Linked DNA regions of Homo sapiens. The protein of the gene in region 1 interacts with the protein of each later gene in a biochemical or structural test. Each region holds a gene or a part of one and is shown on either strand. Other genes may lie near its edges.

Region 1 (3,665 bases):
CTGCTGCTCCCAAGTAACGTTGGGTTTATTTGTTTTTAAGGAGTCTGACGGGCCTGTGTTTAGTACATAGCCCATCACCACTGAGTGTAGAGGCAGGGTCGGTGGTGCTGGCCTAGATGGGGCCGGGACTGGAATGAGTGGTGGGAGGTGCGCGCGGGGTGTCCACACTGTGGGCCACAGCAGCACTCACATCGGCAGGACGCGGGAGGACACAGTGCGGCAGATTGTGGCTGGGCTGACGGGGGACTCGGACGGGACAGGGGACCTGGCTGTTGAGCTGTCCAAGACCGACCCGGCGAGCCTGGAGACAGGCCAGGACAGTGAGGATGACTCAGGCGAGCCAGAGGACTGGGTCCCGGACCCTGTGGATGCCGATCCAGGTTAGCTTGCCCCACATGGTCCCTTTCACCAGTGTGGGGGGCGCTTCAGCCAGGCCGTCCGCTCTGGACTCATCCCTTGTCACAGAGCTTGGCTGTGTCAGGTGTCGCTAGTGTCTCAGAGGCTTGAGGGTGTCAAAGGTCAGGGCAGTGCTCCGCCACCTGCCAGCCTGGGCAGGCCGGTGATGGGCTGTTTTCCTCTGTGGCTGGTCACTCTGGCCGTGGGGGATGCCCTGCCTCCCACCGCTTGTGAGCTGTGGGGTGTCCCTGCCCCGCCACTGCACCTGGCAGAGGAGTGAAGATGTGGGTGACCCCTGAGCTCTGTACTGATTTGGGCCTCAAAGTCCCGTTAGGGTGCCAGCTCCTGCTCAGAGCCCATCTGTGCCTGGCCCTCGTCTGCGAGGGCTCTGAGGGCTATGGGGCCCAGGCCTGGCCCCTGCCCTGGCACAGATGGTAAGTCTTCAACACATCTTTAGTCTCTCTCAGAGGAAAACCCCAGGACCTTTGGCTTGTCCCCTAAGCCTGCATGGGAGTCCCGGAAGGTCCCTGTGGGGTGAGAGGGGCTGGGGATTGAAGCTGTTGCTCCAGGACCTGACTCCAGGTCTCCCGGGAGGCTCAGGGCTGCTCCCAGCCTCGAGGGCCTTCAGGAAGAGCCATGCTGGGCTGTGCCGTCTGGCTGGGCGGGATGGGAGGAGGGCGGCCCTGTCCTTGCCCAGGTGCCTGTCAGGTGACACCCCTGCCCCCACCATGCCAGGGAAGTCGAGCTCCAAGCGGCGTTCATCGGACATCATCAGCCTGCTGGTCAGCATCTACGGCAGCAAGGACCTCTTCATCAATGAGTACCGCTCGCTGCTGGCCGACCGCCTGCTGCACCAGTTCAGCTTCAGCCCCGAGCGGTGAGGCCTGTGACGCGCTGGCCATCTCCAGGGGTGCCGGGGCCTTTGCCCAGCCTCTCTCGGGACAGGGCCCTGACGCCGTGCCTGGGGCCTGGTTGGAGCTGTGCTTCCGCCCCCACTCCTGGCTGGGGGTGTGCTAGCCATTGGGGTGCCCACACAGGCTCCCTGCTCTGCCTGGGGGGCACCCCCGTGCCCTGCCACAGGTGCTCCTTGGGGCTGGGGCTCATCACGACCCCCTGCCCAGACACTCGTCTTTCCAGGGAGATCCGCAACGTGGAGCTGCTGAAGCTGCGCTTTGGCGAGGCCCCAATGCACTTCTGTGAAGTCATGCTGAAGGTGGGTCCCAGCCCCGCCCGCTGCCCGGCCGCCCCGCAGGTCCCCCGTGACACCGGCTCCTCCTCAGGACATGGCGGACTCCCGCCGCATCAATGCCAACATCCGGGAGGAGGATGAGAAGCGGCCAGCAGAGGAGCAGCCACCGTTCGGGGTCTACGCTGTCATCCTGTCCAGTGAGTTCTGGCCGCCCTTCAAGGACGAGAAGCTGGAGGTCCCCGAGGATATCAGGGCAGCCCTGGAGGCTTACTGCAAGAAGTATGAGCAGCTCAAGGTACCTCCATGCCAGGCCACCCCATGGGCTCTTGGCACCCCTACCCTGCACTGCGGGGCTCCCAGCAGCCTGGTGCCTGTGGCTGCCCCGTTGTCACCCGAGTGTCTCTGGGTTGGTCCTGTCTCGCAGCCGCCTCTGCAGGAGAGGGAGTGGGCCTGGCCCACGCTCTCTCCGCCTTCCTCCCAGCAACCCCGTGTCCCCTGTGAGCGAGCGTCCGCGCGGCCCACAGGCGCTTGGGTGGGCTGTGCTGGGCCCAGGTCTCCTGAACTGCTTCAGGGGGACCCCTGTGGCCACAGCAGGCCCTGCCCTCTGAGCGTTTCCTCCTCTTTTGCTATCCACCCTCTGCCTCTCAGAACCGGGGCTTGGGGTGCCTTGCGTCACTGCAGGGAGGCAGCTAGGGAGCCAGGGCTGCCCTCTGCCCAGGGCAGCACTCCCAGGCGCACCTGACCCCCAGGACCCCAGCCCTGCCCCCTTCTCCAGGTCTGTTTCCTCGAGAACTGCCTTTGCAGGCTCCAGTGGTACTTGAGGACCGGGGCTATGGGTCTGTGGTGGGAGTAGGAGGGGAGCAGATGTGGGGAGTGGAGGAGTGAGCCCTGGCCTGGAGGTCACTGGCAGATGGGGACAGTGTGCCCAGAGGATGGTATTGGCCACGTTTGGCTCACTTCCCCTGGCAGCACTGCTGAGATCCCAGCAGTCCCAGTACAGGCGTCCAGAGCCTGAGGGATGGAACTAGGCTTGGCGGTTCTTTCCCTGAGCTCATAGTCAGGTGGGAGGTGTCAGCTCGGGGAGGAAGGGTTAGGATGGTCGTCACAGGTGGGAGGTGTCGGCTCGGGGAGGAAGGGGTCGGGATGGTCGTCACAGGCGGGTTCCAGGGCTTTCTGTCTGATGTGTGGGGCCTGTGAGGCCTCCAGTGTGCCCAGCGAGTGCTCAGGACTGGGGGGAGGCGGGCACCCCAGCGGGGGACATGTGAGGAGAGGGTTCTGGGGCACAGCCAGCATCCAGTCTGCAGACCCCAACCCCAGGTACCCCAGGAAGGGGATGGTCCAGCCTCGGCCCAGGCAGGAGGAGCAGCCTCAGGACAGAGCCGCCAGGAGGCCGGCGGGCGGGCGGGGCTGAGTTCAAGGGAGGGTCCACAGCTTCTCCAGGTCTGCTGTGAAGGAGGCTGGACCTAGATGTGTTTTCCTTTTTCTTTTGCAAGTAAGAGGGCCTTGCTGTGTTGACAAACCAAGGGAACTTACTCCTAGGGGAGGGCAGGGCGATGTGTCCACTTTAGAAACCAAGGGGGAAGCTTCCTTCCGGAGACAGACAAGGGGAGGGCCAGGCGGAGGCCCCCAGGGCAGGAGGCCAAGGGGCTGTGGTAGGGCCGGGCTGCTGACCATGGTGGCGAATGCCTGCTGCCTCCCTCCAGGCCTCAGCTTGGCTCTGGAAGAGTCCAGGTGTCCCTTGCAGCTTGTGGAGGGTCTGTGTGGCTTGCACCTGCTCTCGGTGGAAAGGAGCACCCTGGCCATCCCCACACCTCGAGCTCTGGCCTGTGATACAGCCTGGTGTCTCTGGAGCCTGCGGGCACCGTGCCCCGCTGTGTTCTGGTACAAATCATCCGTGTGGCCCGGCTCCGTGCTCGGTCCCTTTCCCCCTGCCCCTCTGGCTGCCTCAGGCTCTCCAGCGTTGCTTCCAGGCAAGGCCCCAATGGCCTCCCTCCAGGGTCCTGCCTTGGGTCCCAGGCATGACTCAGCCACTTCCTGTTGCTCAGGCCTGATGTGCTGGGACAGCCACACTCTAGTGCCC
Region 2 (3,665 bases), on another chromosome or scaffold:
AACACTGAGTAAAAAGTGCTCAGACACTAACCTACAGACTGCTTCTGTGCTAAGTGCCAGGCATTAGTCTAAGTGCTTATGTAGATTAATTTATTTAATCTCCACACCAGTTTTTTGAGGGCAGCATTATTACCATCTTCATTTTACAGATGAGAAACTATGGCACAGAGAGGTTAGGCAACTTGCTCTCAGCCGTGTTACTACGAAGTAGTAGAGCAGCTTCCAACCCAGAAAATCCAGCTTTCAGAGCACCAACTTTTACCCACCACACAATACTGACCCATGTACCCTAAAGAAAGTACACAGATCAAGTATTTAGCACTTGATTTTTGCAGTGTAAGAAAACAGTTTCACTGATATTTCCTCACTAGAATTCATTATGGAACTCAATAGTGAGTTCCATTAGGTCTGTAGCTAAGATCAGGCCTTTCTTATTCAAACACGTAAGATGTGGGGCAAATAAAAGAGGACAGGACCTATTTTTAGCCTGGCAAAGTTCCCTGGATCAATAATAGCCAAAATAGCAACAGGGTCCAGGTGCCACTACTCTTGACGCACTGCCACTGACCCTCTCCAGACATCCTGCCTTATTCCCTGGGCATCCTGATTAAATACAGTAAATAAGTAGCGTCTCCTGTACCTTTATCCTCCCTCCATTCAATAGCCAACTTGCACCAATGCATCTCCTTACTGACCTCAAGACTCTCTGGCAATACATAATAGGTTCTGCCTTGAAAAAGAATTTGGACTATATGCAAAGTTCTTGGCATCAAAGAATTCTCTCCCTCATTCATTCATTCATTCATTCATTCATTCACAGAAGCAGCAACCAAATACAAGTGGCAGAAATTGCTATAGGTTGAGTTTCACTTACCCAAAATGCTTGGGTCTGTAAGTGTTTGGGATTTTTTTGGAATTTGGAATATGTGCATATACATAATGAGATATCTTGGGGATGGAACTCAAGTCTAAACACGAAATTCATTTATGCTTCATGTACATCTTATACAATATATTTAATAATTTTGTGCTTGAAACAAAGTCTTGACTGCATTTTGACTGGGACCCATCATATGAGGTCAGGTATGGAATTTTCCACTAGTGGTGTCATGTCGGTGCTCAAAAAGTTTTAGATTTTGGAGCATTTTAAGATTTCAGATTTTTGGATTAAGATGCTCAACCTGTACTGCCAGTCTAGTTAAAACCTCAGGCTTTCACATTAACAGAATCCTAGCTCCATCACTAACCAGCTTGTGTGATCCTGGGCTTCTCTAACCTTCTGTTTCCTCATTAGTAAATGGTGATACCAAGTACCTACCCATAGAATCTTGTGAGGATTAAAGCAGGTATTGTGTGTATATGGCAGACTAAGCACCCCATAAATGTTTAGTTAGACTAAGCACCCACTACCTTAAAGATCTAAGCAATTGCTAAATCTGGTCAGATTATTCTTTCAGACATCAAAGAAATACGAGCTTTAAAATATTTTCATCTAAAATGGTAAGATGTGCTGGCATATTTAATGGTTGCTATTATGTGCTGCATCCCTAATAATGCTGGATAGCTTTACGGTATTAACATTCTGACATTCTAGAAAATGAAAGGTATAACAAGTACACATGCACACACACACACACCAACTACAACCCGAGGAGAATACAGTTGAGCATCCCTGTGCTTTCAGAAGATAATAAATTGGAATTGGCAAAAAAGACTTTTCTCACTATTTGGCTCTATAGTTTCCCTCAAAATCCTATTTTTTACAGGGTGCAAAACACTTATATGAGAACACTTAGGAATAAGCAATCTTCCTACAGCGTAGTTAACTTCAGAGTGTCTTCTATCTATCATGGTGATGTCATACACTATTGGTTATTTTGCTGTTCCTATAATCAAATAAATATAAGTCTAATAAACTTAGGTAAGTGTTCAGCAAGTTTTCAGCAAAACTGTTAGCAGAACTATTCAAGACCTAGTCTTAAATAAAAACAAAAATGGCCAAAATCTGGTTGGTTCATGAAGTACCTTTAAGGTGGCTGCTATTTTGAAGAAAGTCATACCACTGGTTTCCTTCTGTGTTAGGGGGTGACACAAGATCATCATCTTCATCTTTCAAGTACTAGAAATACAGAATTAGAAATTTAAGTTTATTCATACCTGGAAGGGAAAATGGAAAAAGAAAAAAAGTAAAAGACAAAAAAAAGTTAAGTTTAGTAAATCAAAGACTTAGGGCCTAAAATCGGTTTATTTTTAACACTTTTTTAACTTAATAAGTTACTTTGTTTTATTGCCAAGTCCTCTGAAAGTGCATTACTATCATTCTAAGTGAGGTAGCCAAAATCTGCTATGTGTATGTGGCAGAATTAAGCCCTCCATAAATGTTAGCTAGCTACTATCTTAAAAATTAAAGAAACTGCTGAACAGTTGGTAGTTTGTTTAGTCAAGCAACTAAACAAACCACAAAGTATTAAAAGATTATTATGTTGTAGATGTAGAGATCACAAATCGAACTTAAATTGTGTTTCTTTTTCATGAGCATATTTTAATTTAACATATGCAAGTTATAAATTAGTTTCATAAGTATCCATTGTCAATGTACTGTCAATATACTCTATGGCAGTTGTTCTTCAAGTGAGATCCACAAGCCCCTGGGAATCCCCAAGATGCTTTTGGGGATCCACAAAGTCAATACTAGTTTTATAATAATGTAGCTGTCACCTGCCCTTTACACTATGCTAACATTTGTACTGATGGTGGGGAAAGCTGTAAGTGTCTCAGCCAAGAGTCAAGGTAGTAGTCCCAAATCATACCAGCAGTCACTGTATTCTTTTTCTGCCACATACTCATAGTTTCATTTATCTTTAATGAAGTCATTAAATTATTAACTTTATTTTCAACCCTTGAGTACGAATCTTTAATATTCTGTGTGACAGAATTGAGAGTTATACATAGGAACTTTTGCTACACAAAGTATGATGGTTATCTTGAGGAAAAGCACTTATGTTAAAAGCAAAAATAGGCTGGGCACGGTGGTTCATGCCTGTAATCCCCGCACTTTAGGAGGCCATGGCAGGCGTATCACTTGAGCCCAGGAGCTCAAGACCAGCCTGGGCAACATGGCAGGTCTCCACAAAATAAAGACAAAAATTAGCCAGGCATGGTGGTGTGTGCTTGTAGCCCCAGCTACAAGAGGCGAGTCCGAGAGGTGGAGGCTGCAGTAAGCTGTGATTGCACCACTGTACTACTCAGAGGAAATATCTTGTCTCAAAAAAAAAAAAATTTTTTTTTTTTTTGGAAAACCTGCATCTGCCCCTGTGTGCTTCACAACACAAAGACTTTTCTGATTAAATTGGTGGTGCTATTAATGAAATCTAGCTTATAGTTTGATAAAAGGTGGCGGCATTTAGAACAGCTGGATGACTCAGGGAACCAATACTTCCCAAATGACCAAAGCAGGATGTTACAAAATTATGCGTGGACAAAAGATCCGTTCAAAGTGCAAGAAGATGAATGAATTTTAATGTAAAAAACGTTCACTGATGCAATTTTAGATTCCACACTGAAACAAACCTTTAAGATACTATCACTTGTCCACATTTGATATAATAAAGCAAAGTCACAATTATCTGAAAAAGCTAATAGAATATTTCTCCCTTTTCATATAC

What was found.
Region 2: the proteins of ANAPC2 (region 1) and ANAPC4 form a complex in vitro, tested with the Homo sapiens proteins (one study listed by BioGRID).

The regions. Positions count from the first base shown.
Region 1 is NC_000009.12:137,178,396-137,182,060, reverse strand, and holds part of ANAPC2 (anaphase-promoting complex subunit 2), read left to right. Parts: intron 1-198; coding exon 199-380; intron 381-1,131; coding exon 1,132-1,273; intron 1,274-1,533; coding exon 1,534-1,609; intron 1,610-1,676; coding exon 1,677-1,880; intron 1,881-3,665. UniProt on the Homo sapiens protein: Together with the RING-H2 protein ANAPC11, constitutes the catalytic component of the anaphase promoting complex/cyclosome (APC/C), a cell cycle-regulated E3 ubiquitin ligase that controls progression through mitosis and the G1 phase of the cell cycle.
Region 2 is NC_000004.12:25,408,152-25,411,816, reverse strand, and holds part of ANAPC4 (anaphase-promoting complex subunit 4), read right to left. Parts: intron 2,120-3,665; coding exon 2,026-2,119; intron 1-2,025. UniProt on the Homo sapiens protein: Component of the anaphase promoting complex/cyclosome (APC/C), a cell cycle-regulated E3 ubiquitin ligase that controls progression through mitosis and the G1 phase of the cell cycle.